3 linked regions of the Homo sapiens genome follow. The protein of the gene in region 2 interacts with the protein of the main gene of each other region in a biochemical or structural test. Each region holds a gene or a part of one and is shown on either strand. Other genes may lie near its edges.

Region 1 (11,711 bases), on a different chromosome or scaffold from region 2:
CCCGGGGATCAATCATCTAAATGAGCAATATCAGAAGCACAATAATTGAACTGCGCCCCAAAGAGAATTGTGTCTCTCCCTGAGCAGATCATGGTGAGACCAGCTAAAGTTGCATCAAGTACCCACCTGACACTTGAGTACTGTCAGAAGATGCAATAATGAAGGCCACTCACAAGTGGATATATGGGGAGAAAAATGAAGCTGACAGTTTACCTTCCACCCTCCAAGAAGTTACAGATGTTGTCATCCCGCTTGAGGACTAGATGGAAAGTCTCTCGAACAATCTGCTGTTGAATTTCTTCTGGCTATGAAACAAAAAGATAAGTGAATCAGTGGGCAAGCCTGAAAAACTACATCCCATCCATGGGGATGGACAAGGGAAGAAGTGTTTCTAAGCTGGGAACATCTAAACATTTAGTACTTGTTTCTAGAAATGATAAAAATGATGAGAAAAAATAGGAGTGAATCTATGAAAGATGGGTGACAATGCTCTGATACAGGAATTAAGATAGGGTATATTTACCTAAATATCTAAGTCACTAACCATTACTGTCCTATAGGTAAGCTGATATTTAAACAAGAAAAGGAACATTGATAAACTCTCATACAAAGTCAGAGAATAACTGGAAGGCCTGATCCTGAAATATTTTGTCTTCCCCTGGAAAACATCTATGACAAAGATATAATAAATCTCAACAGGTCTAACATTTTAAGAAGGTCAAGATGTGGGCCAGGCACAGTGGCTCACGCCTGAAATTCCAGCACTTTAGGAGGCAGATCACAAGGTCAGGAGTTCGAGACCAGCCTGACCAATATGGTGAAACCCCATCTCTACTAAAAATACAAAAAAAAACAAAACAAAATAAAACAAAAAAACAATTAGCTGGGCGTGGTGGCGCATGCCTGTAATCCCAGCTACTCGGGAGGCTGAGGCAGGAGAACTGCTTGAACCCAGGAAGCGGAGGTTACAGTGAGCCGAGATCACGCCACTGCACTCCAGCATGGGCGACAGAGTGAGACTCCATCTCAAAAAAAAAAAAAAAAAAAAAAAAAGGTCAAGAAGTAATCATGTAAATGTTTTAAAAAGTTATATTGGCAAATACAGCTGCCATCTTTTGTACTGGTAATATAGATACTACATATAAGATGCTGTGTTACTCACCAACAAAGTATTATTGAGAAAAATAGATTACAGATTAAAATTTTGAACAGTTACAAATAAAATGTATTATTATTATTTTTAGACAGAGTCTTGTTCTGTTGCCCAGGCAGTGGTGTGATCACAGCTCATTGCAACCTCCACCTCCGGGTTCAAGCGATTCTCCTGCCTCAGCCTCCCCAGTGGCTGAGATTACAGGTATGTGCCACCATGCCCGGCTAATTTTTGTATTTATAGTAGAGATGGGGTTTCACCATGTTGGTCAGGCTGGTCTTGAACTCCTGACCTCAAGTGATCCACCTGCTTTGGCCTCCCAAAGTGCTGGGATTACAGGTGTGAGCCACCATGTCTGGCCTTATTTTTTCACTTACTACGTGCATAAGAAAGCTCAACTCTGATGAAATCACTTTGATAACTCACCTTTGATTTCTAATTATACATATGAGTTTCAGAAGAAGTATGGTTAAAAGGGTAAGAGAGGGAGAAACCAGCAATTAAGACAGATAATAACTTAAAGCTCTAGAGCATTGCTTCTCAAATCTTCATTTGCAATGAATCAGCTGTGAATGCTGTTAAAATACAGATTCGGATTTAGCAGGTATAGGTTAAGTCCTGAGATGCAAGTCTAGTAAGCACCCAGGCAATAACATTTCTGCTGGTCTGGGGACCACACTTTGAGTAACGAATCATAAGAAAACCTTCAAATTGGACTTGCCCCAAGAGTTAGAAAATAGGTTCAAGTAATTTTAATCCCTTTCTTTCTATAGCCCTGAATTTAGCTTTGAAATGGTTATTTAAAAGAAACAGAGAGGGGAAAAAAGGGAAAACGTAATTGTGGGGAAATTACTTTGACTCACATGGGTATGGAATGGCTCACAGTATTTACTGACTGAATGAAAACTTGCTAATCATTGGTCACTACAAATTTGAGTAAATTAATCACTATTTTCCTCATTTCCATTTAAAGAACAAACAAAGCTCACAGATGACAGGATGCTGTAGGAGACGAACTCTATATATGCAAAATACAAAACATGCTAAGCATCAGCACTTTTTAAAACTGACAAAGACATCTTTTGAACTAAAGCCTTTTATCTGACTCTGGGGGAAGTGGCAGCAGTGGGGAAGTGGTACGAAATGATGAGGCTACCTAATTTCTAGTTCAATAAAAAGGTAAACTACCAATTGCTTACATGCCTCAGTGATTTTAATAACCCCTCATATCTTTTTAGTACTCTGTAGTTTTCAAGGTACTTTCATCCATGAGCTCATGAGGTCTTATAAAAATCCTATGATCCAAAGATACACGAATGGGCAATAAGCACATGAAAAGATGCTCAACATCATTAGTCATTTTGGAAACTGAAATCAAAACCACAATGAGCTGGGTGCGGTGGCTCACGCCTGTAATCCCTGCACTTTGGGAGGCCAAGACGGGCAGATTACTTGTGGTCAGGAGTTCGAGACCAGCCTGGCCAACACAGCGAAACCCCATCTCTACTAAAAATACAAAAATTAGCCAGGCATGGTCGTGGGCACCTGTAATCCTAGCTACTCAGGAGACTGAGGCAGGAGAATCACTTGAACCCGGGAGGCAGAGGTTACAGTGAACCGAGATCACGCCACTGCAGCCTGGGAGATAGAGTGAGATTCAGTCTCGGAGGGAAAAAAAAAAGCCACAGTGAGATACCACTTTACACCCACTAAAATGTCTTTAACCAAAAATAAATAAATAAATAACGAATGGCAGGGATGTGAAGAAACTGGAATCATTATACATTGCTGATGGAAATGTAAAATGGTGCAGCCACTTGGAAAATTTGTCAAATAGTTTGCAGTTTCTCAAAATGTTCACCACAGTTACCATATGATCCAGCAATTCTACTCCTAGGTATATAACCAAGAGAAATGAAGTCATAAGTCCACATAAAAACTTGCACAAGAATGTTCATAGCAGCATTAATTAGAAGAGCCAAAAAGCAGAAATATCAACTTATAAATTGACAATCAAAATATGGCATATCCATATAATGGAATATTATTCAGCAATAAAAGAAATGAAGAACATCAGATACATGCTACAACATGGATGAATCTTGAAAACATTATACTACATGAAACATGGCAGACACACAAAAAACCACTTATTTATGATTCCATTTATAGGCAACGGAATAGGCAAATTCCATTTGCCATTCTGGAACTGGCAAATTTAGAGGGAAAGAAACTCTCTGGGGCTGGGAGAGTCATGGAGAAATAGGGAGTGACTGCTAATGGGCAGAGGTTTCTTTTTGGGGTGATGAAAATGATCTAAAATTGATTGTGGTGATGGTTACACAGCTTCTGTGAACATGCTAAAAAACACTGAATTGTCCCCTTTAAATAAGTAAACTGGGGCCGGACACAGTGGCTCATGCCTGTAATCCCAGCACTTTGGGAGGCTGAGTCCGGTGGATTGCTTGAGCCCAGGAGTTCAAGACCAGCCTGGGCAACATAGAAAGACCCCGTCTCTATAAGTAAATAACATAAAATAAATAAGTAAACAGTATGGCATGTTAGTTTTATCTCAGTAACCCTGTTAGAAAAAAACTAGGGGGGAAATTTGCATACACACAAATGCAAATACAAATAGTTACGCTGAATACTCATATACATACATATATATATATACTTTTTTGTGTGTGTGTGTGATGGAGTCTCGCTCTTTCGCCCAGGCTGGAGTGCAGTGGCGCTATCTTGGCTCACTGCAAGCTCCGCCTCCCGGGCTCACGCCATTCTCCTGCCTCAGCCTCCTGAGTAGCTGGGACTTGGAGGTGCCCGCCACCGCGCTTGGCTAATTTTTTGTATTTTTAGTAGAGACGGGGTTTCACCGTGTTAGCCAGGATGGTCTCCATCTCCTGACCTCGTGATCCGCCCGCCTCGGCCTCCCAAAGTGCTGGGATTACAGGCGTGAGCCACCGCGCCCGGCCTGAATACTCATATTTTTACCTCGATGTAATCTACTTAATAAAATGTAATCTAGCTTTAAAAATCTTATGAAGGAGTAAAATTATTTTTTCATTTCTAATTGACAAAAGACAATAAAAGTCTGAAAAGGGTTTATTAACTTGTCAACAGACGCAAGAGTAGAAAAGGTGGAGCTGAAGCCTGAACACGTTTTCTGGCTCTTTCCCCTCTTCAGTTCCACCAGTCCCCCAATTATGTAACATTTTGAAACCCTGCCATGAAGAAATATAATCTTCGAAGACAGGAAGCAAATACTGATGTTTATGTGTTTGCAAAGGAACGTGTTGGGAAAATTCAAATTTACGTAATCACTTATTGAGCCCTTATGCGGCAGCATTTATAATTTCTCATCATTTTTCCACTTTTAAACTGATTTTCTTCAACCCTAAGAGTGAAGGGTATCTAGTCTCTGGAAAGTCCCAGCCAACACTGAAGCAAAATAATTCCAAAAAAAAAAGAACTTTTCCAGTTCTGGCTATAACAAAAACTTTCAGAAACTTAATATTTCTTCCTCATGAAACTGTGGTCAACAACCAAAAAGATGACAGAATGTGACTTCAATCACTCAAGTTCTCATCGAGGCACACTCCCCACTGTCGCTTCTATCTCGTTCCCAGAGACCCACGGGAAAATGTCACAAAATGGCACAGAAATGCCAGGATCAAGAAAAGGGTCAGCGAGAGCGGGGCAGTAGGGCGGGAGACAGAAGGCCTGGCACCAGCCTGCGCCTAGATTAAATGCTTAAGTAGGGCGAGGGTCATGCTCGGTGCAGGAGCCCCAGGTGACCAAAGAGCGGTGCCCCCGGGCGCCGAGAGGCCAAAGAGGAGGGAAGACATAGTGGGCGCCCTGAAGGGGCGTGGTGAAGCCGGGCCGCACTCACGAAACGCTGGTAGAAGCGGACTAGCCGTGGCTTCCCATGGTTGTTGAAAACCAGAATCGCCTGAATCATCTTTGCCAGCCACGGTTCTCTCAGCACCGGCTACTCCCAGAAAGCTCCTCCTTCCGCCACAACACGATCACTTCCGGTTGGTGCGCTGCTGAGAGCGGCACTCGGAAACTTGGCCCCGGCGCTCACGAGCCCTAGCACCCAAGGGTCCGGCCTCTCTGACGCCTTGGAGGGCAGGTGCGGATGCCGAGGAGAGTGGTCACCTCGGCCAGCGTTGGTTGGCCAGTCAGGATGCGAATCCGGATCTATGTCCCTCGCCCAGACCGACGGCTGGCCCCAGAAGCCGAAACGACCGTCAGCCGGGTTGCCAAAACGGAGAGGCGGCGGGAGCTTGCTTTTCTCACCGCCCGCTCCAAATCATGCACTCCCGCCATCCCCTTAGCGCTCGCAGAACGTTCCGCGGAGTGGAGACGCCGGTCATTCGGCCGTTCGTCGGTTATGGAACATTTCGTTCATTTTAATTTTTCAGTATTATAATGCTGCAGTGAATTACGTAGCTGTCTCTCCGTGCAGATGGGCTGTTCCTCTATGGTAGACGGTGAATGGTGGAATTAAGGAATTTTTAGTGCATTTCCATTTAAAATCCCAAATCGATCAAGTTCTTATTTTTGTTTGTTCTTTTAATGACCCAGTGTGGGTGAAGTGGAGCATGTCCGTATACTGCAGATGGAGCAGCGGATACAGATGCAAATCGATCCAGAGGACTGTTTGGCGATATGGATCAGAAGCCTTTAAAATATATAACAGTCCGGGCGCGGTGGCTCACGCCTGTAATCCCAGCACTTTGGGAGGCCGAGGCGGGCGGCTCACTTGAGGTCAGCAGTTCGAGACCAGCCTGGCCAACAAGGTGAAACCCCGCCTCTACTAAAATTACAAAAATTAGCCGGTTGTGGTGGCGCGCGCCTGTAGTCCCAGATACTTGGGAGACTGAGGCAGGAGAATGGCTTGAACCCGGGAGGCGGAGGTTGCAGTGAGCTGAGATCACACCACACTGCACTCCAGCCTGGGTGACAGATATATAACATATATATATATATATATAAAACATTAGACTCAGCGTTTCCAGCTCTAGAATTTATGATAAAATGATTGTGGATGTGTGAAAAGATTTAGCCTGAGGAACATACATTTCTGCCAGAGTATCTTCAGAACAGTAAAAAAAAGAAGAAAAAAATATATATCTCAGCAGTGTTATTACAGGGGAAAATGGGAAGAAAATTATTACAAAAATGAGAAATTGGTTAAGTGCATTGTTCTACATTGAATATGAGAAATATTAAATAGATAATAAAAATCATGCTGGGAAAGATTTATGATACGGAAGTGTTCATGACACCTGTTAAGCTAAAAGATTACACAAAGTATGTACAGGGACAACCCACTTTGCTCAAGATTGGAGGCAAATACACCAAAATATGAATCATGTATCTGATGGAATGGCAGAGTCAGGGTGTTTGATCTGTACAGGACCCTGGAACCACACTGCCCTGATTCAAAGCATGGTTCTGCGGACTGCCTGGGCACCCTGGGCAAGTTTCCCCATCTGTAGAAAAGGTGTAATATCAGTTTCCTAAACTGGAAAACTGGAAAATGAGTCTACTGACTTCAGACAGTTGTTATAAACACAAAGGGAGTTAGTATAATATTTGTAAGCACTTGGACAGTGCATGGCACATAACTGAGTACCACATAAGTGATTTAAAAACATCTTTGGGTGGTAGGATTATCAAGTTTTCCTTTTTTTCCTTCAAAGAAATATGTACTACTTTTGCAGCCAGAGTTCTGGGGTTTGCTTGTTTGTTTTTCAGAGATAGGGTCTTACCCAGGTTGGAGTGCAGTGGCACAGTCATACCTCACTGTAACCTCAAACTGCTGGCCTCAGGCAATCCTCCAGCCTCAGTCTCCCAAACCGCCACCACGCCTAGTCCAGTTTTTTGTTTGTTTGTTTGTTTGTTTGTTTGAGATGGAGTCTCACTCTGTTGCCCAGGCTGGAGTGCAGTGGCACAATCTTGGCTCACTGCAACCTCCGTCTCCCGGGTTCAAACAATTCTCCTGCTTCAGCCTCCCCAGTAGCTGGGATTACAGGCACATGCCACCATGCCCAGCAAATTTTTGTATTTTTAGTAGAGATGGGGTTTCACCACATTGGCCAGTCTGGTCTCAAACTCCTGACCTCAAGTGATTCACCCATCTCAGTCTCCCGAAGTGCTGGGATTACAGGCGTGAGCCACTGCGCCCGGCATGGCCCAGTTTTTAAATAAATAAAAACCAAAAGTCAGTTGCACTGAAACTTGACAAAATGTTTAAAATGTTGAGGAAGAATATCAAAGAAAATTCTGAAACAGAATTATGAAGAAGAACTAGCTCTGCCAACTATGAAAACCTACTTTGATGGTTCAAATTGTAATTATAGGAAGAATAACTGAAATATTATAAATAATTTAGGCATAAAATAATTTTAATATGTGATGTAGGAGTGGGAAGGAATTCAGTAAATACTATTAGGATAACTGGTTAGCAATTTGAAAATAAGTAGTTAGGTATAAAACCAGATAATAACCTAAACAGAAGAAAGCGAAATTGAATAAGATCCAAAAATCTGTATTAGCTTAGAAGCAATAAAAATCACAAAACATCAACAGATATATAAAGTTTTTTTATAAAAAGAATTATTTAATGGAAAAATCGTTGTTAAAATATGGCAAATGGTTATATTTAAAATGCAAATAACTGATAAACTAAAAAGATAACACTCCCCATCTCCCCAGTAGATAAATGGACGAAAGAACGAATAACAAAGGGAGAAATACAGCTAGGAAAAGGAAAAAATGTTTAAGCTCACTATAAGTGGGGGAAAGGCAAATTAAAATATATTCAAATATTATTTTCACCTCATCAAAAATCATTTTAAAAATGTTTTCATACCCAATTCTCACAAGGGCAGCATAAAAATGGTTCTCCCCTACATTGCTGGTGAAATTATGGTTTAGAACAACCCTTTTGGGAAGCAATTTGGCAATATAACAAGAACTTTGCAAAAGATTTCTAGATTCTCAGTAATATGACTCCTGGGCATCTGTTCCTAAAGAAATAACCCAAAAATATAGTTAGAGGTGGGGAATTAAGAGAACTATATAATTTTCAACATTTTTGGAAACATTAATTCTGTTAGCCACACAGGGATCAATTTTAAATATCCAAAAGTTGGACCATGACAGAACTATCCAATGGTAGCAATCTTAAAAATAATGGTTACAGGTGGGCGTGGTGGCTCACGCCTGTAATCCCAGCAATTTGGGAGGCTGAGGAGTGAGGATCACTTGAGATCAGAAGTTCAAGAAAAGCCTGGCTGACATGGTGAAACCCCGTCTCTACTAAAAATACAAAAACTAGCCGGGCGTGGTGGCGTGTGCCTGTAATCCCAGCTACTCGGGAGGCTAAGGCAGCAGAATAGCTTGAACCCGGGAGGCAGAGGTTGCAGTGGGCCAAGATCGCGCCATTGCACTCCAGCCTGGGCAACAAGAGCAAAACTCCATCTCAAAAAAAAGAAGAAGAAAAATGGTTACAAAGACTATGCAGCAATATGGAAAGTGATTATGTGTGGGCATAGTGTTACAACAACTACCTACAAGCATTACAGATGTTTCAGAATTTGTCTAGCAGGTTTTCCAGTTTGTACCAGAAAACCCCTATGCAAGTTTACAAAAACCAAAACTATGTACACAAATTACATGCTAAAAAACCCAAATACTAAAAATTATGAACATGACTGAGTGAAACTATGAGTCTTTTTTTCCCCTTTAAATATATTTCCTAAATGCATTGCTATTTGTGGAGATTAGTTTAGTCCCTCAAAAAATTTTCCCATAATGTCCGGCACTGTGGCTCATGCCTGTAATCCCAGCACTTTGGGAGGCTGAGGAGGGTGGATCACCTGAGGTCAGGAGTTCGAGACCAGCCTAGCCAACATGGTGAAATCGCATCTCTACTAAAAGTACAAAATTAGCTAGTCGTGGTGGCGCAGGCCTGTAATCCCAGCTACTTGGGATTACAGTAATCCTCCTGCTGAGGCAGGAGAAACTCTTGAACCTGGGAGGTGGAGGTTGCAGTGAGCCGAGATTGAGCCATTGCACTCCAGCCTGGGCAACAAGAGCGAAATTCCATCTCAAAAAAAAAAAAAAGAAAGAAAGAAAATTTCCCATATGAATGAAGCTCAGAGGATTTGCTTGGTTCTGTTTGAAGATACAAAATAACTGTAATTTCCATCATTAGGCCCATGGTGAAAGGCAAGCTGGACACTGGTGGAAGAAAAAAAAATTCAGATGGGTAGAGGAAAGGGACCTCCCTCCAAGAAAAGAGTCCAGGCAAGGCAATGCAAGTGGGGGAGTGACCTGCTCTGGGAACAGCCAGCCCCTCCATGGGACCAACACAGCCCTTCCCAAACTGTTTCTCACAACAGCTGTCCCATGAAATGCTCCTCACAAAAACGGGTTCTCTGACCAAAGAAATGTGGGAAATACGTAATCATACCCTGTCCTGAAGAGTTACAGTAAATGTTAGTATAGTTAAAGCTCCAAGAAATCCTACAGAAATGTTTGAGTTTAACACTACGTTTGTTCCAACAAATTAGATCATAGAAACACCACCACTTTTTGTTTCTAGCCCTATTAACAACCTGTGGAAGATCCCTCAGGCTGGTCTGAAAGAATCGCCCCAGAGCTCTTAAGGAGGAAGCGAGCCGAGAAAGGAGGGTTGTGACATTGTGATGAGCTCTGAGTTGTATTAAGGAATTTGAACTTTTCATCTGGGGAGTAATAGGATCCAGTCTAGCTTCCAAAAGCTGCCCCTACCAGCCACATGGGGGCCCCTGAAAGCAGGGTTTCAGCCCTGCTGTAGTTCCTCAACTCCCCACAGGTGTATCTAGGAAGGCTTCTGCCCTGGCTGGGCCTGCCCTAATGCCTGAACCAGTCCTGACCAGGGCAGGAGGTATGGCAAAATCAGGGGCTTTGGCCTCACCATCTGCCCATGCAGATGCCTATGCCACAGCAGCTTCCTATTTTCTCCCTTCCTAGTCCCTAGTCCTAGGGAATAGGATTTTACCTCAGTGTCCCTACCTGCTGAGCCTGGGACCCTATTCTTTTTTTTTTTTTTTTTTTTGAGACAGGGTCTCACTGTGTTGCCCAGGCTGGAGTGCAGTGGCAATCTCAGCTCACTGCAACCTCCACCTCCCGGGTTCAAGAAATTCTCATGCCTCAGCCTCCCAAGGCGCTGGAACTACAGGCATGTGCCACCATGTCCGGGTAATTTTTGTATTTTTTGGTAGAGACGGGGTTTCACTGTGTTGATCAGGCTGGTTTCGAACTCCTGACCTCAAGTGATCCGCCCACCTCGGCCTCCCAAAGTGCTAAGATTACAGGCGTGAGCGACTGCACCCAGCCCTGGGGCCCTGTTCTTATCCTCAGCCCACTTGGTTTTCCCATCCCTAGGGAGCTAGTTTCAGTTCTCTATACTTCTTAGCCACAGGCTGGGCTCCTGCTAAACAGCAGGTCACCCGGAAACATAACATCACTACTTGTGCACCACAGCACTGCCACTCACCCAGAATCTGGGCATCATTCTTGATCCCTTCGTCTCCCCCCAGGTCCTGTTGATTTTGCCCCCCGAATGCCCCTCAAATCATTCTCTTCTTTCCATCTCCCCTGCCACTGCTATAGACCAGACCCCTCTAGCCTCTCACCCAGGCAACTGCAGCAGTCTCCTAAAGGAGCAACTCGCCTCCAGCTGCTCGGCAGTCAAGTGACCTTTGAAACACAGATCAGATCTTCTCACTCTCCATGGGATCACTGGCTTCCAGGATGTTAAGGATAAAGTCCCCAATTCCTTAACATGCGTGAGGATGCCATGCCCAATCTCCAGCCTCATCTCAAACACCAGCCCCCATTCTCTGAGCTCCAGACACAATGGTCTTTCCCTTCCTGAAGCCCATCCAAGACACCCCGCCCTTTTTGTTGCTTTAGGACCTCTCCTATTGACACACTGGGCCTCCTTGTTTGGAATGGTGACCTGTCCATATAAGTGTGCCATACCCTTTGGACACAGTGCTTTAGACAGCAGGATGTCTAAAGACACTGGGTGACTCTACCCCCAGTCAGTGTCCCCAGCTATCCTTCTGCTCAACCACCTCCCTGGCCACCCCCATGGCTGAGGTCCCAGCATGGCCTGCCTGTGAGAAAGTCCCATTCAGACACAGAACACCAGTGAAGTGGCTACCACATCCTCTGGCCCCTGTTTCCAAGACCTTTCTGAAGGGCAAGGAAGCAGGGGACAGTGGAAGGAACATAAGGTTTGCTTTTGACAGCTCTGGGTTTGAATCCTGATTCTGCTACTCATTAGCTGTGTGACTCTGGGCAGGTTGCTTAACCTGTCTGAGACCCTTTTCCTGCTCTGTAATATGAATAGTCCGGTAGTTAAGAATGTGGGCTTTGAAATCTGAGTGCTTGGATGTAAATTCCTCTTGCCACTGTATACTATCCTAGAGCTCTGAGCTTTAGTCTCATGAGAAAATGGGAATAATAATCAGTACCTCATGGACTGTTGTGA
Region 2 (11,007 bases):
TTGTCATTAGAGGTAAGTCACACATCGCTATTCTGCTTTTTCCTGGATTACCTGTAGGGTGGTAGGTAGCATGGGACAGTGGGAAAGATTGAGGATGTTACACTCCTGGGCATGAAACCTAGCTTCCACTATGTCCCAGCTCGGTGACCGTGGGCTGTTTAATCTTACTTGATTCATGTTTTCCCCATCTGTAAATAGGGATAATAAGGACTAACGATCACATCTGCTTTGTCAAATAATTCTTATAACCTTAAGGTGTGATCTTTCTGGGATATAGTTAGTGCTTAATAGGTGATAGCAACTTTATTTTTATTAGAAGCCACACAAAGAAAATACGTGAGATTTGGAGTCAGATTCCATATGTTCAAATCCTATCCTTGCCAGTATAAGCTTTATGACTTACGTCAAATAACTTACTTGGTCCTCAATTTCATTGCTTGTAAAACTGGGGATATGAGCTGTTAGCTAACTTGGGCACAGTGATGCATTTACCATGAAACTCGCAAAGTTAAGCTTTGGGTCTCTCACTTGCACAGACCCTTGCGAAGCCCTGTACCTCATTCTATATCCCAAATTTTCTTTTTTCTTAAGAAGGACCCTTCAAATTGTATAAGCTTCAGGACCCACAAAACCTGGATTTGTCTCTGCATGTGTATTATTGTAGGACCAAGTATAAAGCACTTAGCATAGTATCAGGCACAGAATAGGTAATCAATATGTGGCAGTCATCTTTATTGCCACTAGTATTACTATGGGAGAATTCATTCATAACTTGATTCTAATGTAGTTATAATATAATCTACTCTGATATTTCCAGTTCTTTGTTTTTTCATTTGAAGATTGTCTATGCCCCGACTTGTCTATGTCAAAAAGGGAAGAGGGAAAAGGGATGAAATTCAAATGAGTAGGTGTGGGAAGCTTAGTAAGAGAATTCCTATCCAAAAAGTTGTCTCAAATGATAATTGTCCTTGAACCCTGCAGTGACCAGAGGTAACTGAAGAGAGACTTTTAATTTTGGCCAGTGAATATCGTGGAAGGAACCAAGACAATTTTGTTTCATTTTTGGCCTCAGTGGTGACTGCCTCGTATTGGGCAAGGCCTGTAATTGTTTCTGCTTCAATTTTCTCATTTGCAAGAGAGGCATAATAGTACTTCTCTTTTTCCCACACCCTCTTCCTAGGGGATATTGTGAGCATTAATAAGGCATTTCCTTACAAGCGTTTGGGCCTTCATGAAGAGAGAGCTTTGCAGAGACCCAGCAGTTCCTTTTCCTCCCTTAGGCCTGGAAAGGCAGGAGTTTACGTTACATTTCATCTGGTATCCCAGTGAACTGCCTTGACACCTAGCACAGTGCCTGAGATACATATTAAATGCCTCTTCACTCGCCTGTGATCATTTTAATAGAAAGAAGAGTGTCCTGAGAATCAGCAGAACTGAATCAAACATTTTTTTTCTGTCCCTAAGGATTTCTTGGACTAAGCTGAACAAGCACAGTGGCAAGTTATTTAATCCCTCAAATCCTAAGGATCCTCATTTTGAAAATAGGAACAATAAGGATAAGAATACTTAACTCAGAGTTGTCACAAGAATGAAATAATATGATATCTATAAAGCACCCAGCACAATGCCTCGCACAATGCCTGAACGTTAACAGTTGTTATGTCTTTAGCTATATTTGTCATCTGTGAATTGAAACTTATTATACAAGCTATGGTTCCTCTTAGCTCCAAACTTCTGAGATCCCATGACCTTTAAGAGCAGCTATGCAGTTCAGAATATTAAGTTTGCGCTCCTAATCTCTGCAGACGTGCTGGCAGGTTGACTGTCTCCCAGTAATAGGGATGCAGAACTGGCCACAGTCAGGGCTGGCCAACAAGGGATGGGATGGCAAGGGAACCAGTGGGAGACTGTTTACACCTTTGACTTCCTCTTCACAGGTCAAGGCAGGACTGTAGCATTAGGTCTCAGAGATGCAATGAACAGGACAAATACACTTCCCCTTCATCTGGACCTGAGGCTCTGGGCAAGTCAGTACCAGCTGGTTTCTTTTGGGAGCCATAGAAACTCTGGAGCTGTTCTACCGATTCCTCAAGAAGTAAAATATAGGCCAGGCGTGGTGGCTCACGCCTGTTATCCTAACACTTTGGGAGGCTGAATCGGGTGGATCACAAGGTCGGGAGTTCGAGACCAGCCTGGCCAATATGGTGAAACCCTGTCTCTACTAAAAATACAGAAATTAGCTAGGCATGGTGGCAGGTGCCTGTAGTCCCAGCTACTCGGGAGGCTGAGGCAGGAGAATCGCTTGAATCCGGGAGGCGGAGGTTGCAGTGAGCCAAGATGGCTCCCTTGAACTCCAGCCTGGGCGACAGAGCAAGACTCTGTCTCAAAAAAAATAAAAATAAAAATAAAAAAAGAAGTAAAATGTAATCACTGATAACCAGATTGCTTTGATTGGTGACTATGGGATCTTGTTTTTTAAAGTCAAATCAGCAAAACATCTTTATTGATGTGTATGTAAAGGCATTCAGCTATATATCATTTTAAAAGGCTCCTTCTTGCATATCTACCTCATCTCCTGAGTTGCCTCTATTCAAAGAAGACTTATCTTAGTCTGAGATTTTTCTTGATCAGAAAAAAACCTGTAAAGATATCTTAAATCTGTTATCTTACGGTCAAGGAAATTGAGGCTCTTGGAATAGAAGTGACTTATCTAAAGTCAAATGGAGAGGGAAGGAGAGAGCGTGCCAGCTAGCCTTCTGATCCTGAACCCACTTTTCCCATCTCAAGGATGACCATACATCCCATTTGCCTGGAATAGTCCTACATGGTTTCTGTGTACCTGTTGTGCTGGTGTAATCACTAACACCCCCTTTCCTCCAAAAGATTTCTGCTTTGGACAATAAATTCTATGGCCATCCCTCACCTCTCATGCTACATTGTCCTTACAGACCACAATGTATCCCGCTTCTTGGCTCTCTTAAGGAGTTGAGGCCTACTCAAACTAGCTCTGGCAAGAGAGGATTCTTTTTTTTGTTTCTGTAAATCTGGAAGGGGAAGCTCATAGAAATCAAAGGGCAAGAACCACGGCACAGTAAGGCCTCCTGAGAGGACAACCGAAAGTGGAAAGTCAGCAGGAAGCAGGCACACTCTGCCTCCCACTTTTTCCTCTGCTTTCTCCACCAACAGGCTTCCTCTGTTTACTCAGCCTGGCTCTGTACTCATCCGGGCTTGCTCAGCCCCGCCTCAGTGTGACTTTCCAGCTGTTGACCTCTCATAGACATGCTTCATCTCCTAGTTTCTCTTTTCCAAGTTTATAACGGAGCAATGTGATTGGCTCAGCACAGGAAGAAACTATAGCACTGTAAACGGAGGCAGTGTCGTTAATTTCCTTGCAAGATTCTCTAACTCCTAAGCAAAATTATCCAAATTCTTTCCTGGCTTTTAGAAACACGATCTTGTGATATCAAAATCATATTAAGTTTATTTTAGTGTCTTACTAATTCATGTTGACTATGAGTGCATTCCTTATTAATGATTAAGACAATATAGTAGGCTAACAGTTGTCAGCATAGCCCCTAGACTCTAGGAGATGCATCTAAATCACTTACAAAGATTTAGAAAATACCAGACCCCATCCCAGACTTGCTGAATCAGACTCATTAGGAACAGAACTCAGGTTAAAGTGCTTATCATAAAATCCATTACTGGAGGCAGGTTGCTGTGGGATCGTAATCTGCAATTTTGGGAATATGCATTTTTAAAAAAGGTGTTTATATTTGTATAGTGATTATTTTAGACCATGTCTTCATTCCTTAAGATGGTAATTCTGACTGAGGAGATTACTACTTATAATTACTATTAATCTGCAAGTTTACATTAAAGGAAATATTATTTGGTGAGGAGGGGAAGATTCCTGCCTGTGGAAACTACTTTGCTTTATTGTTAAATAAATCCAAGATTTCATTCTGTCAGGCCACAGCAGAGGGGCCATCTGTTCTGCCAGACATTTGCTTATTTCCCAGGAAGAATCAGGAGGTGGAATTATAAGCTCATTGATGAAAACATAGGATGTTGGCCAAGTTACTAGACATTCCTGGCCATATCATCAAGATATGCACTATCTATACACTATACACTAAGGAAGGGACCATTTTTAATCCAAGCTGGTAACTGGAAAAAACAACCAAGGAAAAATAAAGACCACTTTAGGTGTTTGCTTTCTATATCTAAATGCACTTTTGGGTACATGCTTTGGCAGTCATTCTTTCATTTGACAAATATTTACTGAGTGTGTACCATTTGCAAGGCAGTGTGCTAAGAGCTATGGATATAACACTAAACAAGAGGCAGTCTCTACCCTTGCAGATTTTATAATCCAATTTAAACTCCTGGGCCCCTCATATTCTTAAAAATTATTGAGGACCCCAAAGAACTTATGTTTCCATACCTATTGATAGTTACAATATTAGAAATTGAAACTGATATGTATTTTTGAGAAATGTTTAAAACAGAAGACTACACAAGCACATATTCCAATATGACATCATTATATATCACGTAACCTCTGGAAGACTCCACTCTACACTCAGAGAAATAATAGAATTAAAAACGCAAATGATACCTTAGTATTAAAATAGTTTTGACCTTGTGGGCGCCTCCTAAGAAGGTCTTCGGGCTCCCCAGGGGTCCTGAGATCACACTTTGAGAACTGTTGATCTAGTTTTCATTTAATTATTTTTTTAGAATATTTTTAAAAATACATAATATCCCTGTTTTATATTCCTGTAAGGCCAGTTTGGAAGCTATCTTGTTAATGTTTTCAAACAACCAGGATTTTGCTTGGTGTGTCTTTGATTTACTGTGTCCTTTTGGCTTTCCTGTGAGTCCAGTGTTAAAAATAGGAGTTTGGGCCATCAGTAATTCCAGTTCCACAATCTCTTGTCTTTCCCCGAGTGCTGATCAAAGTAGACAAGAGCATTCATATCTCCATAATTGAATTACTCAGTAATTCCCTTCTGGCCTCAGCCCTGCGGGGATTTTCAACCCATATGACGTAATTTGGTATTTTAATCTAGTATGAAAGCTCTCTTTGAAGGTAGATGTCCTGTCGTATTTAGTTTTGTGTCTTTTCTTACTGCCAAATGCAATGTCTTATTCAAAATAGATGGTCAGTAAGTGTTACTTGGATGAATAGAGAAAATAATTTCTTTGGAAATGATTTTGTTTGCATTTTGTTGTTTAGTCTCACATTTTGCCTCACTCTGTAGGCCAGTGGTCACATGTTTGTCTCATGAATGATTTATACCTTTAAAATCTGGAAACTTCACGTATTGGTCCAGATTTCCAGCTTCTCTTGAAACATGTGGATGTTCTTTGGTACTCGTCATACCAAGTTCTGTGTGGTAGCTGTCTCGGCAGAAAAGAGGCTGACCCTTAGAAGAGACCTGCCTTCCCTGTTTCCCACTGTCTTAGTCCATTCAGGCTGCTGTCACAAAATAGCATAGACTGGGTGGCTTATAAACAACAGAAATTTATTTCTTACAGTTCTGGAGGCTAGGAAGTCCAAGATCAAGGCCCCGGCAGATTTGGGGTATGGTGAGGGTCCACTGCCTCATAGATTATGGTCTTCTCACTCTAACCTCACATGGCAAATGAGCTCTCTGGGGTACCTTTTATGAGAACTAATCCCATTCGAGAGGGTTCTACGCTCGTGACCTAATCACCTCCAAAGGCCCCACCTCCTAATCTCACCACCTTGGGGGTAAGGATATCAACAAAGGAGTTTTGAGGGGACATAAACATTCAGACCACAGCACCCACCGTCCTTTGCGCCCTTATTGGCTCCCAAGGCCCAGTGAAGGTATCCGTTGTTGTGCATGTGCTGTTGTGTTTCTTAGAGTAGAGAAATGTTTCTCTATATCTGACACTCCTTACCAAAAGAAGGAAAATGAAAGATAGCTTGAGAGGATCATGTGTTTAACAGAAATGGGGGAGGGCATGTTTCTCTGTAGAAATGAATATTGCTGCTGGGGTTTGACATGCAAACAAATGTACAAACCCATGGCCTGTGTCACTCATTTGCCCTAGCCATCTGGCCCCTTCAGCATCTGAATTTTACACACTTTCCAGAGACAGTGTGAGGCAGAGTGCCATTGTTACACTAATGTAATCACTCATCACAAGTCCCATTTTTTAAAATTCATTTTTTAATTGACAAGTCAAAATTGTACATATTTAGGGCATGCAACATGATGTTTTGAGAGAGATATACATATAGATATACATAGTGAAATGGCTAAATCAAGCTGTTTAACATACACCTTACCTCAATTACTTATCTTTGTTTTGTGGTAAGAACACAAAATCTAATCTCAGCATTTTTCAAATATACAATATTTTGGGGTTTTATTTTATTTTATTTTTGTTTTTGTTTTTGTTTTTGTTTTGAGATAGGGCTTCTCTCTGTCACCCAGGCTGGAGTACAGTGCCACTACCATGGCTCACTGCAGCCTTGACCTCCTGGGTTCAAGCCATCCTCCTGCCTTAAACTCTAAAGTTGCTGGAACTACAGGTGTGCACCATGCCAGGCTAATTTTTAAATATTTTTTTGTAGAGATGGGGTCTTGCTGTGTTGCCCAGGCTGGTCTCAAATTCCTGAGCTTAAGCAATCCTCCCACCTTTGCCTCCTAAAGTGCTGGGATTACAGGCGTGAGCCACTGTGCCTGGCCCAATATATTGTTATCCACTGTGATCACCATGATGTACATTAGATCTCTTGAATTTGTTTATATCAAACTGAAATTTTGTGTCCTTTGACTAACATCTCACCAGTCCTCCCAGCGCCCACAATTCCCATTTTAAGGATATTTTCTTTTAACACTGTACTTCTGATAATCAACAGTAGTGGAAGAGGAGACATAGAAATAGGTAGGTAATGAAAATATTACTTATTTCAATTTTGAGAGATATAATCACAACCAAACAGGTTGCAAAATAATGAGACTGGCTGTGCAAGTTACACACAGAATGTGGGCCTTGTTTCCGTGGCCTTATTTCTTATTTATTCACATCTGAAACTCCTCTTTCTCACCCGCCTCCCCACTCCCCATATATGTATATATATATTCCCCTCCCGCTCCCAATTTTCACCTGGTTCTATGTTTAAGTTTCTATCGGTAGCTGCTTTTTTTCCCTTTAGGTCATCAGTTCTCAAACTTGGCTGTACATTTGTAATCACCTAGAAACTTTCAAAAATAAGTTAGTGGGTATTTTGTAGCAGGAGGTTTTTTGGGATTGTCATTCCACCATATTGTCCTGTATGTAATTTATAAACAAAGTACAGTTCACCCATGAGCTACATTTGAATCTGAACTATCAGAGCTCATTAGTTAAAATTATGACAGTTGCAAAATGAAAATGAGTTAAGCAACAGTGACATAAATAAATGAATGCCAATACATTTTTACTGAGTTAAAATAAGGTCAGGGAATAAGAGTAGAATGTTAATGGCAGTTTCTTTCTTTTATGTAAACAGTGGAAATTACTTAAATTACTGCATGAGTCTGGGTTGGGTTTGCTTCGTTTCAGGGAGCAATTTTAAAAAACAAAGCAAATCAATTGGTGTTTTGCCATTTGATGAGTTTTATTAATCTGGAGTCCAGTATACAATTAGGCCAATATACCATCCATACACAATTAGGGCAAGTTCTCCAAGTTGGTCTGCATTATCTCTGGATGAATTTAGACTGTGCAGATGGCAACATGGATGCTTAAGTTGTGTTTAATTATGAAGTAGCACTTTACTGACCTTAAAGAACAACCAGTAGTGCTCTCGAATCCCGAAACTTTCCTTAAAGGTATTACTGATTCCCGTGAAAGCCTAATGGATTCCCTGAGTGCTTATTTTTATCACTTGGAAGTGGCTTACATCAGGACAGCTGGTTTCACCACTCTCATGGTGTTGCCTTCCCAAAAGATTGCTGTTAGGCTGACTTGGGTTGTGGCTGTATTAAGTCATGTCAGTGTTCAGCAGTCAAGCTAATCCAGCCTGCATCTGTTCCTTCATCTGCAGGTCAGGTGTCAGCCTGGCCAGCGACTCCATGTTCACTACACACAGCTCAGAGAGGTTGTTCTCAGTTCTGTCTCTGACCAGCCTTCTGTGTACCCAAATGGAAGCTTATGCTGGTTGAAGATTCTTTTACTTTTGTTTTAAAACAGTCTCACTTCATACATGGTAAAAACTGTTATGCTTCTCCAGTAATTCAAGAAATGCAAGTTCAAACAAGAAGATGCTATTTTGCCACTACTGAGGAAGCAAAGATTTCTGAAAACCTTAAACACCAATATTGGGATGGATATGCTGAAATGGTTGCTCATACACTGCTTTCTGGAGCAACTTGTTGATATTTAAAGGCTGATGAGTTCATGAAAACTTTTTGTCTCTAGACCCAATAATCCCAATCTAGGAGTCTATTCTAAGAAATTATTCACTGATTTGGGCCAGGTGTGGTGCCTCATGCCTGTAGTCCCAGCACTTTGGGAGGCCGAGGTAGGTGGATCACTTGAGGCCAGGAGTTAGAGACCAGCCTGGCCCACATGGTTAAACCCCATCTCTACTAAAAATACAAAAAGTAGCTGGGTGTAGTGGTGTGCACCTGTAATCCCAGCTACTCCAGTGGCTGAGGCATGACAGTCAAAAGTTGCAGTGAGCCAAGATTGCACCACTGCATTCCAGCCTGAGTGACAAAAGCAAGACTCTGTCTCAAAAAAAGAAAACAAAATTATTCACTAATTTGGACAAATATATTCAAGAACATTTACTTCAGCATGAAAGCAACACAAATGTCCTATAGTAAAAGAATGATTAAATAAACTGATTTAGTATATTTTTTTAAATATACTAATACAGTGGATTAGTATACAGACATTAAAATAACAGTTTCAAAACCTATTTAATAACAAGGATAATCGTTTATAAAAGATGAGTCAAAAAATGATACAATACATATGATCTCAATTTTGTTTAAAATACACATATATATGACTAGACCAGAGGGAAATAAACCCATATGTTAACAGCGATAGTGTGGATTACAGGGGATTTAAATTTTGTTCCTTTTACTTTCTTCATTGTCCAAATTTTCTGTGACAAATATAATGGAATGGGTAGGGAATGGATGGAGTAGCATTTACCTGATTTAAAGTAACAACAGGCTGGGCACGGTGGCTCACACCTGTAATCTCAACACTTTGGGAGGCTGAGGTGGGCAGATCACCTGAGATCAGGAGTTCAAGATCAGCCTGACTAACATGGTGAAGCCCTTTCTCTACTAAAAATACAAAATTAGCCAGGTGTGGTCATGTGTGCCTGTAATCCCAGCTACTCGAGAGGCTGAGGCAGGAGAATCGCTTGAACCCGGGAGGCGGAGGTTGTGGTGAGCCGAGTCATGCCACTGCACTCCAGCCTGGGCAACAGAATGAGACTCCCTCTCAAAAAATAAATAAGTAACTGAATAAATAAAAAATAAAGTAACAACAATCAGTAGCATCATTTGTGAATAGAAATTGGAGGCAACACATGACTTTTTCTGCACATTTGTAGTAATGTTATCTGCTACTTTAAACATCTCTTCTAATATGAATATAGAAATTTCTGTAGATTGATAATTTATCATAATATCTAGGTATTTTTCCCTTAGATAAATGTGATGTTTTATTGCTTACAAGTCTAGTTTGTTCCTTGTTATATCAAGGAGTTTTTAGAATTCACCAATAAAATGAGAAGGTAGGAGATCTTGTCTACCATTATATCTCCAATACCTAGAACAGTGGCTTAGCACAAAGGAATTGCTAAGTTAATATTTGTGGAAAGAATGAAAGAGTTTCATCAGTTTTAAGGTTGTGAAAATCCTATGCTATACTTGCTATGAAAAAGGATGTTATAAAAAATTCATTAAAACCAAAATTGCTAAAGACAGATCTAACAGACTTAGAACTAATGTTTGTGTGCCTTTGGCATATTAATTATGCATAAAAATAGACCCTGCTAATTCCAAACTAGTCTTAACCATTTATGAAAGGAGGCCAAAATGTCTCCTTGAAAAATAATATTTGCAGCTAAGAAAGTTACTGTCTCTTCTTGATTCTGCAGTACTGAAATTCAGACTTTTTATTTATTCAGATCACCTTTCTTACATATTATTTAGAATATGCGGCATTTTGCCACATTGAAGATTTTACCAAGAAGAACTGGGTAAACAGCAGAAGATGAATGCCTGGCACAGCGTTGTGCTCTACGCTGCGGTATCATCTGTTTCTTCATTAATTATTTATTGTGTCCCTTCTGTGCCAGAAACCATGTTATGTGCTGGGGATCCATGAAAAAGATACAGTTCTTAGTATCAGACCCAATCTGACACTAAAGACTAATGAACACATTTTCCTTATAAAACTTGTGAAGTTTCATGAAAGCAGAGAGAAAACACATAGTTCAGAGGGGCCTTCTGAGAGATGGCACTTCTGAATTGAGCCCTGAAGCCCAAGTAGAAGTGAACCAGGTGATAAGGGCCCTGCAGAGACTTCTGGGTGAAGGGCGGTGAGTGACTCAGGCCAAGGCACTGGCTGAGAACTTGTGTGGTGGGTGCTAGGTAACAGTAGATGGTTGCGTGTTACTGGTGCATAAAGTGCCTACCAGGAAAAGACAGCGACAGGTGACGCAGTTGCATCAGATCACAACAGGTCAAGGACTGTGGACTTTATCCTTTGAGCAGGGGTGGAGTATCTGTTCCCTTAGGCACTTTTGACAGGCTTCTCTGAAGCCTGAGATGGATGAAGCATTTGAAAGGAAAAAGGCTGGAGAGAGGGAGACCAGTTAGGAGCCTACATACAGTATTGTCACAGTCCAAGCCAATGATGAAATGTGCCTTGGGGTAGAAATGGGGAAGAGGAGGAGGTGAAATCAGCAGGACTTAGTGATCAACTAGGGGAGAAAATCATGAGTCCATTTTG
Region 3 (11,007 bases), on a different chromosome or scaffold from region 2:
TTCCAGTAAGATACATTCAAAGCAACAAAATAACTTTTACTAACACTTAACTTTTCAACGCTAAAACTTACAGAAATTGTTTACCTGACTTGTTAGCAGTACAGTAGTCCCCCCTTACCCGCAATTTCACTTTCCATGGTTTCATTTACCCGTGGTTAACTGTGGTCTGAAAATAAGTGTGTGCAGTACAATATTGTGATAGAGAAAGGCCTCAATCACATAACTTTTTTTTTTTTTTTTTTTTTTAAGAGACAGGGTCTCACTCTGTCACCCACAGTGGAGTGAGTGATGCAATCATGGCTCACTGCAGCCTTGAACTCCTGGGCTCAAGTGATCTTCCCATCTGTCTCCTGAATAGTTAGAACTACAGGTGTGTCCCACCACGCCTAGCTAATGTAAAAAATATACATTTGTAGAGATGGGGTCTCACTGTGTTGCCCAGACTGGCTCAAACTCCTGGCCTCAAGTGAGTCTTCTGCCTTGGCCCCTCAAAGTGTTGGTATTATAGGCGTGAGCCAGTGCACCTGGCCTCACATGACTTTTATTGCATTATACTGTTATAACTGTTCTCTTTTATTATTAGTTGTTAATCTCTTACCGTGCCTATTTTATAAATTAAATTTTATCATATGTATATATGCATAGGAAAAAACATAGCATATATAAGGTTCAGTAGTATACACAGTTTCAGGCATCCACTGGGGGTTTTGGAATGTACCCAACACAGGTAAGGGGGGATTACTGTAAATACATTTTTAAACGTAAAAGTAAGATATTTCTGACAGTACAACATAGTTCTTAAAGATTTAAGATTATATAGTTGACACACAGCAGAAATAAAAAGAATGAAATTCTACTGGAGAAATAACTTGTTTCCATCTATGTTATACCTGAGCACCACCATGGCAGGTAAAACTGCAGCGACTACACCAATAAAAACAAATATATGAATCCAAAGCAGTTAAGAATATGAACTGGATGAAAGAATGAAGTACAGTATATAAAAGAATGATCATGTTTTCTCTCCCATGAGATTAAATAAATTAACAGAATTAAGAGAAAGAAAACAAAATGAAGTCTGCAAGTATACCAAAATGAGGCCAAACAGATAAAGACTTATACAGACATACTCTTGGAAATTTCAAGCACTTGAATCACAAAGATAGTAATGGATGGATATGATTTGTTTTTGATTTTGTTTTTAAATTGCCAGACCCAAAAATAAACAAAATATGTGCAAGCAAAACTGAAAAAGCAGCATTACTAAAATGTATTTCGAAGACCCTGAAAGCTCCCTTTTCCTCATGCAATAAACAATCAACTTTCTTGAAGGGAAAAGGAAAGTAATAGAGTAATCTTGTTATTTATTTCATCTAAGACATAAAATACCATCCTACCATCTTAAAATATCTTTTTTTTTTTCAAGTTTGAATACAGCATAATAAGATGGTAGTTGGAACAAACTGTACGTATTAAAACCTTTACCCACCCTTCCTGCTGGAAGTTGCTATATGCACATTCATAATTTTGACCTAACAGCAAAGTGAAAGAACACCAACATTAATAAACACAATATTAAATGGTTTCAGACTCAAAATCATTAACAAAATAATGGCAGATTTTGAAAGCATGTTTTTGAGCAAAAAAGAAAATGTCAATAGTTTAAAAAATCCCTCAACACGAGGTAGAATAACTTTTAATCTGGGGATATATAATAGGCTTTGTTTTAATGGCAGTGCTTTAATACTGCAATTATAAACATTTAGATAAGCTCATGACAATTCTCTAGACAGCAATAACTATGGTGTTTCACAGTTTTAACAAAATTAGAGTGCTCAAAAATTTAAAAAACCTTCCAAATTATTAGTCATTTTGTACGGATTATCTTCAATTATAGCTTTAATTTCAAACATAGGATTTGCCTGCATGAAAAAAAGAGAGCAGACTAATGACTTTCATGGATTTATCATTACTAGTTTTGACCATTACAAGTGACCTCAAGGGTTCTCACCATAATTTTGTAGAAGTACAAGACAAATGTGTATGTCAAGGTAGAGAGGCAGAACCAGCTCATGAGCTGACCTTCCACCATCAGTACCTTAGAGCCACTTTTCTTATTCTCTCCTCTTTGAAAACAGAAACTTGATTTTTTTTAAAAAAGGCCAATTAACAGTTCTAGCAATAAAGTTAACAGACCCAAGTGATTAATGGTTCTTTGCTGGAAAATAGCAGTAATAAATTACATACTGTAACACAGAAACTGGCAATAATTCTGACCAATGGTGAGAATGAGACTACTATGTATTCTCTATATGAGGGACAAAATAACATGGATAGAGGGACCAAAAACGGTACCCCAGTTTTGTGACATAGCCCACAATCTCAAAATAAGATACTATAAAGCCACCTGTATGTTGCTACTTCTTCTCAAACACATCGAGAGAGTAAGTAAAAATTTAGTGGCTAAAAGGCAATGCTTTGTGATATCACCACAATCATCAATTCTCAGTGATGTTTTTCTAATTAGTAAGTGCATAATCTAACTTCGTAAGTTTATACATTTTTTCCTCCATAGGACTCAATAAATTACTTTTATTTTGAAATTTTCAATCAGAGACCTTATAAACATTTCTTTTGCTTACATGGTTTCACACAAAATAGTTGCTCATCACCACGTACATGGAACTTTTAAAAAAGTAATTCACACAGTTAATTTATGGTGTGAAAAAACGTACAGGAAATATCAGAAGAAAAATTAGTTTTGTAAAACTAGAGGTCTATTAAAAATATTTCCAATATTTGCCAATACGCTTTGCAAAAATATTCAGGGTTTTTAATTCAATACTAAAACATTAATATATTTTTATTGATTCTGATTATGACATGTTTGGATGTCAGAAGGTTTGCTACAATGAAAACCCATTGTATTTTGGTGATTTGGTAATTTGGTAATTCCATTTTTCGAGCATTCTAGTTTGAAATACAGTCAAGTTTTATAAGATTTCTGATCTTATTTTCTGTTGGCCACTGTTAATATGCACCTGCAGGTCAAAACTGTAAAAGCAATTCTGTTAAGACTTTGGAACTGAAAACCATTTGAGGGGAAAAAGTACTATTTAACAGTCACTATTCTAAGCCTTCACTGCTTCCCATTTTGTATGCAAAACTCTGAAGGTTCAGCTTTTGGTTTTTAAATTCACAGCTTCCAAAACCCAGCAGGCAATTTTATGTTAGAATCCTAATTTAGAGATGGAAAAAAAACAAATCTGTGAGAGTTAAATTAAGATTGGTTCTGCTATATGATGCTCAAAATAAATTTTACGTTTTTATATACAAAGTAAATTGTCACTTCTGCAAATGCAATTTGTCAGTTAGATGACAAGTGTTTAAAAAAAATTTAAACTTTCCTTTTACAATGCAGGCAGACAAAACAGAACAAACATGACATCAATGATATACTAGTAAAATACACTAAGTCCAATAAAAGATGAAGAAACTACAAGGAGAAACTAGAATGGAAAATAGGCTACAGGGACTATATGGGTTTATTAACACAAAGAATTTTTGAGTCTGGCCTAAATAATTAATTGCCTTTGACATCATTTTGCTTTCCCTTTGTTATAGTACATATTTCTCAAAGTCAGCAATACCTTGTCTACCTGTCCTGTCTGGGAGACTGAAAGATAAAGGTCTGTAAGAGAGAAGAATGGAAAGAGCTAGAAAGATCAGGATGTTCGGAAAAAAAAGAGGACTGACTTTCAAAAAGTAGTGACTAAATTCAGACCCATTTATCCATCTTAAGAATAACATGAAATACATAAAAGCTAACAGATCTCCCCAACCCCACCCCTCTACCTCCACCCCCAGGGAGTCCTTTTATTCTTAGGCAGGTTCCTGAGTGCCTCTTATACTTCCCCCGAATCCCATCAACCTCCCAGCTTAAACCCTCCTCTCCCAATATTCCAATGTTATAGTAAACCATTTTTCTATCAAAATAGAATAGATGGAAATACATTCAGAGTATATCTTTGCTTCTCTCTTTCAGGATCTGGCAGAGCTTTGCTTCCACCTGTCTAGGTATTGGGAATTAAACTGGTTCACTTTTTTCCATTACCAGAAATGTACTAACTTTAGACCAACATAATAAAAGCTCTGATTTCTGACAAAGGCCCCTAGATAAATGCATGTTATGTTTAAAAAGCTGTGTCTCAATTATACCCAGACTGATTTTTAAATATAAATGATGTTCCTAAGATATTACTTAAATAATTTTTAAAAATATTGATAACCAGTTCTTTTCATCAATCATGACATTCTCGATTTTAAACAAGTCTTTTTTTGTGTGTTTGTTTTTGAGACGGAGTCTTACTCTGTCACGCAGGCTGGAGTGCAGTGGTGCAATATCAGCTCACTGCAACCTCCGCCTCCCGGAATCGGGCGATTCTTGCGCGTCAGGCTCCAGAGCAACTAGGATTACAGGCAAGTGCCACCATGCCTGGATAATTTTTTTGTATTTTTAGTAGAGACGGGATTTCACCATATTTGCCAGGCTGGTCTCAAACTCCTGACCTCAGGTGAGCAGATCACCTGAGTGATCCCAAAGTGCTGGGATTACAGGCGTGAGCCACTGCGCCCAGCCAAACAAGTCATTAAGTTTGTCCTTATATAATACATTTTAACTGAAATTTAGTAAGAAGATTAGGAAAAGTTTATACTTTGTTTCAAGTAATTTTGGATTATTCTGCAGAGTAATATCTCTGGTAAATTTAACCAATTGAAGTAACATGGACATGAAACATATGAAAGCTTTTGACATTCTAGCTGGAATAAAGCTAGAAGCCTTTCAAACATACTTAAAATATACAAAAGCTACGAAAAATTAGTCATCATAATTTTCAGTGCTGTTTTAAAAAGATGATCAGGGCTAAATGGCCTCACTTTGACTTGAAATCCGATTTCATAACTAAAATATTAGCAGACGTTACATGTATAGAAAATATATAATTTTGTAGTTTATCCCCAATCAGACTTAAAACATACTTTCTTGTAAAAGACAAAAGAAGAGAAACTAATTTGGTACCAGATAACAATTATGTATGATGCGAGATGATCAGGGAATGAATAATAGAAGTAATCACCAGTATTCTAAACTATTTTAAATAGCATTATTTCTGTGAATAGATTTTAAGTTATAGTATTCTTATAACTATTTCCATTGAAATGTAAATTACGCATTTTACTGCTCTTTATAGATAAGAAAAATTGCCTCATTAACGAAGTTTTATTCAACAATCAAAAAGCAAATACCCATTATGCAATAATTATAGGTCCTTCATAACTTTTGTCAATATAGCACATTAACCCATTTATGCCGGAGGTTGCAAACTTTTTTTTGTGAAAAATCAGACCTTGGGGATGACCTTGAGCAGTAGGATATAAATAACTCCCACAAGCTTAGCATTCCAATAATGGAACACCAGGCATAAATGTCTTAAGTAGCAGAAGAAAAAGAAGGACCACCACCAATGAAAAGGAGTTAACTACCTAGAAAGGTGAAAATTCCAGACAACTGGTCAATATTTTTTACAGATGATTATGCAGAATTCACAAATTACTAGATACTCATTCATTTATACCAGTTATTAAAGGATTGCATCACTGTTTGTCCCTTGGCATTTAAAATCTATAACCATACAGTTTTGCAAAGCAATGTTTAACAAATGACACACATTTTAAGTTCTTTTAAGACTTTAAAAGCAATAGCTCAGGGTTTATAATAATCTTTTCTTTACTAAATAATATATTGCAAGTCAGTTATACTAAATTAAATTATGAGTCTTTTTCCTTGTCCTAAAACAAAATTTTCTCTATTAACCTAATTTATGTTTTCCACTTTCAAAAGCCAATATTTTAAAAATTGGCTATAGGACAAACAAAACATATAGTTAGTTAAGATAATCTTAGCTCTAAATCACCACTATAAACTTCTCCTTTGGGAAACCAACAGGAATGGGAAATTGAGATAAAGAAAAATGCAAGACTATTTTAAATTTAAAAGAGAACACTGGAAAATGTTTTATAAGCTTCAACTGTTTCTAGATTTGAGATTTATTCTTCACCCTGTGTTTTCTTCAATTAAAATGGACACAGAATTGAATTGAGTTAAACTGATCCTTTAAAATGCCAACAAGGTAAAATTTTTCAGAACTCACCTGTTGTAAATTAATGCCAGTGTATTTTTAAAACCTTGATGCTTTCAAAGTAATATTTACTTTAAATCAACGAAACATCTGAGCTTAACACTAATAATTATAAAAATAAAGTCTGTTTTTTCCAATCTGAGTTATGACTGCAAATACCAAATGTAAGAGTATCCTCAAACAAGTTGGGTGGTGAATGAGATATCAAAATTATTGATCTTTCTTTTTTTTTTTGAGATGAAGTTTTACTCTGTTGCCCAGGAGTGCAGTGATGTGATCTCGGCTCACTGCAACCTCCACCTCCGGGGTTCAAGTGATTCTTGTGCCTCAGCCTCCCGAGTAGCTGGGATTACAGGTGCGCTCTACGTGCCCAGCTAATTTATTTATTTTTTATTTTTATTTTTTTAGTAGAGATGGGGTTTCACCATGTTGGCCAGGCTAGTCTCGAACTCCTGAACTCAAATGATAAAACTACTGATCTTTCTAAACCTCTGCTAGGGTAATAAACAACCAAAATAATGTGAACCCAGGTGGCTCAGCTACAGCACCTGCTACTGATATTCAGACTAGTGCTTGAGGGAAGAGTCACTACAATTCTGAAGTAGGGTTTTATACAATGCTAAAGTGCTGGCTGTTCCTCATTTATCCCATCTAAGGTTGAATCTAACAGCAGAAAGTTAGCTAAGTATAACAAACCGATCTTATAGAATGCAATAAAGACCATGGATATATATGTACTAATGTCTAAAATATGTGACTTAACTAACTTGTCAGTGAAATCTTAGGGAAAGATTTAGAATTAAAAGATTAAGGTATTGAATTTCTTTTTTGAATGTGAACTCAAACATTCAAAATATTTATTTTGCATTTATTAATAACTTGAAACATTACTTACTTCCCTGTAAGAATTCCATTTCCTGTCCTTTCCCTTTCCAGAAGTAGTTTTGTAACACAAAATTTATATATCTTTAAAATATTAGTTCTAAGATTTCCTTGATAATTACCGACTGAAGTTTTACAAAGCAAATATTAGATTCCATTATTCAGATAATTCTTTTAGGCAATAAGATTTGGAATTGTGCTTATTACCCAAGGCAGCTATGACTGTGGCTAAAAGAAGAATACACAAAGCTGTTGGGTAGAGAACAGTCACAGAACCTTTAGCATACTACGTGTATATTCCATTTTTTAAAAACTGAATAAGCATAACGGCTGAACCTAAAGGGTGATACTGAAGGACAAACAGTGAAAACTACAAATCATGCGTAATCTGTCATCATGCTTAGAACCTTCTTAACTACAGCATTTTCCATTCTTACCTCAGATTTTTCCAGCTTATTTTGTGCATCAATTTGTGTAACAATCTCATTCATATTTGTCTCCAATACCATTCCCCCCATCACCATTTCTGCAAGAATATTGTGAACCTAAAGGGAATAAAAGAATATATACCCATAAAGAAAATTCACTAAAAAGAAGTTTCATGATTCACTTTTTGTTTCAAATACCACTTTGTCTATGTTAAAAGTATGAGTGGTAAAAACAACTTGGAGTAAGGGCTCATAATCCACTTTCATCACTACTGTGAAGCCCTAGGCAGTTATATAACCTCCTTAAGTCTGAGCTTAATGGGCTATAAAACAAAAACAATAGTACTACCTTCATAGGACTGTTGAAAGGAATAAGCAAGGTAATCCAATGCAGTACTCAAAACAAAGTAAATGACTAGTAAATATTAACTACCATTATTATTATTATTATGTGAAGTTTAATACTAAAATATGATTTATAAGAGCCTTTTATGCCAGATTCTTAGCCAACAATAATTAGGTTATTATTTTACACTCATGGTACTTAATGAAGCAATGTAGTACAGTACTTCTAACAGGCTCTAGATTGGAAAAAGGTAGAATTTTTTAAATTGTGGGTACTTTAATAGTGTTTTTACCCCCAAATCCTCTACACATGTAATATTCAGATTTCTTCTAATAAATACATCTTACAATGACTAAAAATGATGTCTTCCATTGGGGAGTAAAAATATAACTTCTGTCTTTTCATAAGGTATTATTGGATCAAAAAATCAACAATTCAGAACTGAATTACATTTCACAGAAGAATCTATTCTGCTATAATTTTTTTAAAATAATGTGGTAAGGTTAGAAATGGAGACTCCAAAATTAGATAAGTATGAATACAGACTCTACCACTTATTACTTGTAGCCCTTGAGCAGTTACTTCAGCTCTCTGAGTCTGTTACCTTATTTACGAAATAGAGACAGAAATAATATAGGCACCTCATAGGATTACCATAACAATTAAATAAATAATTTATGTAAGTGCTTAGCATAGAACCACTAGGTATTATACGGTAATTTTTTTTTCAACAAACTCTTTTTAGGAGTTAAATATGTATTACTCAATTTAAATTTCTTTGTAAGATTTCACGCAAATTTATTCATAATTTAAAAAATATCCCTGGAGGCTGGGTATGGTGGCTCACACCTGTAATCCCAACACTTTGGGAGGACAAGGTGGACAGATCACTGGCAATATGGCAAAACCCTGCCTTTACAAAAAATGCAGACAATTAGCCAGGCATAGTGCCTCACGTCTGTACTTCCAGCTACTCGGGAGGCTGACCCAGGAGGACTGCCTGAGCCCGGGAAGTGGAGGGTGCAGTGAGCTGAAATCACACTACTGCACTCTAGCATGGGCAACAGAGTGAGACCCTGCCTCAATTAAAAAAAAAAAAAAAGTCATCATTATTTACTATTTTTCATTTTGGAAGCATGGACACCTCATGCACAAATTCTGAAGACAAATTTATATAAATTAATCTTCCTAGCCAACCAAACCAAACCAGACATGACAGTGTTTTGAAAACTACCGTAACTTAAAAAAAAAAAAAAAAAAAAAGAATATAGGCAAATGACTAAAAGTTCATACAGAAACTTATGTATGAACAACAATAGTCTCTACCACACTCTGCATCCGTTTTTAGGTCCCTTTATCCAAAGCTACTCAGCTAGCTATATCTTAGGTATCCTAGAAAACTTGCTGTGCACATACTTGTTATACGTGTGTATATGCATATCTAATTTACACAAATGAGAACATATTATATACATTAATTTTCGCAGTTCTGCAAGAAAATAAAGAATTGAAAGTTAGAGGAAGGAAAGAATGAGAAATTAAGTTAGGAAAACCATAAAAGAGACTGGTGCCTGATATACATATGACAGTGATAAATGAAACTGTGTTGGTAAGAGCAAACAAACAAAAATATAAAAATTTAAAACAGTGAATCAACATTAATTATTAGACACATATTTTTATAATGAGATCTCTCACTGATCTCTGTCAGAGAAGCAAGCTGCAAATATGGAAAACGAGAAAGCCAGAAGAAATTCTGTAGTATTGTACTAGATTCTGAGGTATTAAGAAGTGGTCAATGATTTTTAATATCATATCAAGATCCAGAAACAGCTGTGCGTGTATACATACATCTATTTCCCAGCTCAGTTCACTAAGAACCAGGAGTCATGTCACCCCAGTAACAATGAGCAAACACAGTGCCCAAATCGTCATTTCTAAACATCATTCTCTACTGAAGGAAGCCAGGGTTCCTTGGAGAAATGGCTGACTTGAGGGCTGGAGCAGAAAATACGTAAGATGCTCTGTTCATTGAAAAGGCCATAAAACAATGAGCAACTTCATAATCATGAGCACCTCTAGACTGTAGTTACTATATACCATCGCCAACAAAAAGGAATCAGGGCTCCTAGAAAAGAATGGTTGACAACATGTCTGGAACAGGAAATGAATAAAATGAGTTTAGAACATCTAGCTGGACCACAACACAAGACAGCTACCAAAGCCTATGACGGGGTAGGTCAGGTCAAATGAACTAGCAAAGATAATCTGAAGGGGTTCCCACTGGCCAAAGATGGGCAACTTGAACATAATAGAAAATAATGTCTGCAACTGATTAAAACAAATCAAATATATTAAAAATTTTATGCCATAGGATACTAAAAAACTTAAATGATCTTTTTTGGTGGATATTAGAAAAGCAACCAGTTATGAAAATTGGTAACTATAAAGAAAAATACTCTAGAATTTATCTGGCCTTTCCTATATAAACTGTGCCTTTTATTTAAGCCCATCTTTGTCTTCAGTAAATTATTTCATTCTGTGCACTTTTAGTGTATTGAATATTATTTCTACCTTTAATTATACTTTCTCTTTTCTCCCAATATTTTAAGTTTGATCTAATTTTATTACACTATTCTCTTCCTTTTAAATATGAAACTCTACTGTGCTTATACTTCCCATTAATATATATCTCTCCCTCTTAAATGACTTTATTATTATTTATAAAACAAATATCAAGTTTTCTAGACCACTGAGAGACCTTGTTTTCCTACTAAAATACTTTAATTATTCCTCATTCTTCTTTCTCTCAATTGGATAAGATCCTCCAAGTACTTGTATAATAGATGTTAAATGTATCCTTCAAAGTCTCTTTTCTTCTTCTTCATGTTTTCTATCTTTCAGTCTTATGCTTTGGGATTATTTCCTACACTTGATCTTCTACCTTTAATTCAAGCCTCAATTGTGATCACCTTCTTTAAAAGTTTTCAGTCTGAAAAACTCTTTTCAAGCCCAAGAAGACTTTTCCAAATCTTAAGTACTTTTAAAATCATTTTAAAATTTCAAGTGAGGCCAGGTGGTGGCTCACACCTGTAATCTCAATGCTTTGGGAGGCCAAGGCAGGAGGATCACTTGAGGTCAGGAGTTCAAG

Evidence for each region.
Region 1: the proteins of SCARB2 (region 2) and AP3S2 form a complex in vitro, tested with the Homo sapiens proteins (one study listed by BioGRID).
Region 3: the proteins of SCARB2 (region 2) and AP3S1 form a complex in vitro, tested with the Homo sapiens proteins (one study listed by BioGRID).

Annotation. Positions count from the first base shown.
Region 1 is NC_000015.10:89,888,836-89,900,546, forward strand, and holds the start of AP3S2 (AP-3 complex subunit sigma-2), read right to left. Parts: upstream 5,160-11,711; 5' UTR 5,115-5,159; coding exon 5,046-5,114; intron 306-5,045; coding exon 214-305; intron 1-213. Other genes in the region: ARPIN-AP3S2 (uncharacterized protein LOC100526783), read right to left, coding at 214-305. UniProt on the Homo sapiens protein: Part of the AP-3 complex, an adaptor-related complex which is not clathrin-associated. The complex is associated with the Golgi region as well as more peripheral structures.
Region 2 is NC_000004.12:76,200,765-76,211,771, reverse strand, and holds part of SCARB2 (lysosome membrane protein 2), read left to right. Parts: intron 1-11,007.
Region 3 is NC_000005.10:115,899,505-115,910,511, reverse strand, and holds part of AP3S1 (AP-3 complex subunit sigma-1), read right to left. Parts: intron 7,628-11,007; coding exon 7,520-7,627; intron 3,692-7,519; coding exon of another isoform or gene 3,656-3,691; exon of another isoform or gene 3,651-3,655; intron 1-3,650. UniProt on the Homo sapiens protein: Part of the AP-3 complex, an adaptor-related complex which is not clathrin-associated. The complex is associated with the Golgi region as well as more peripheral structures.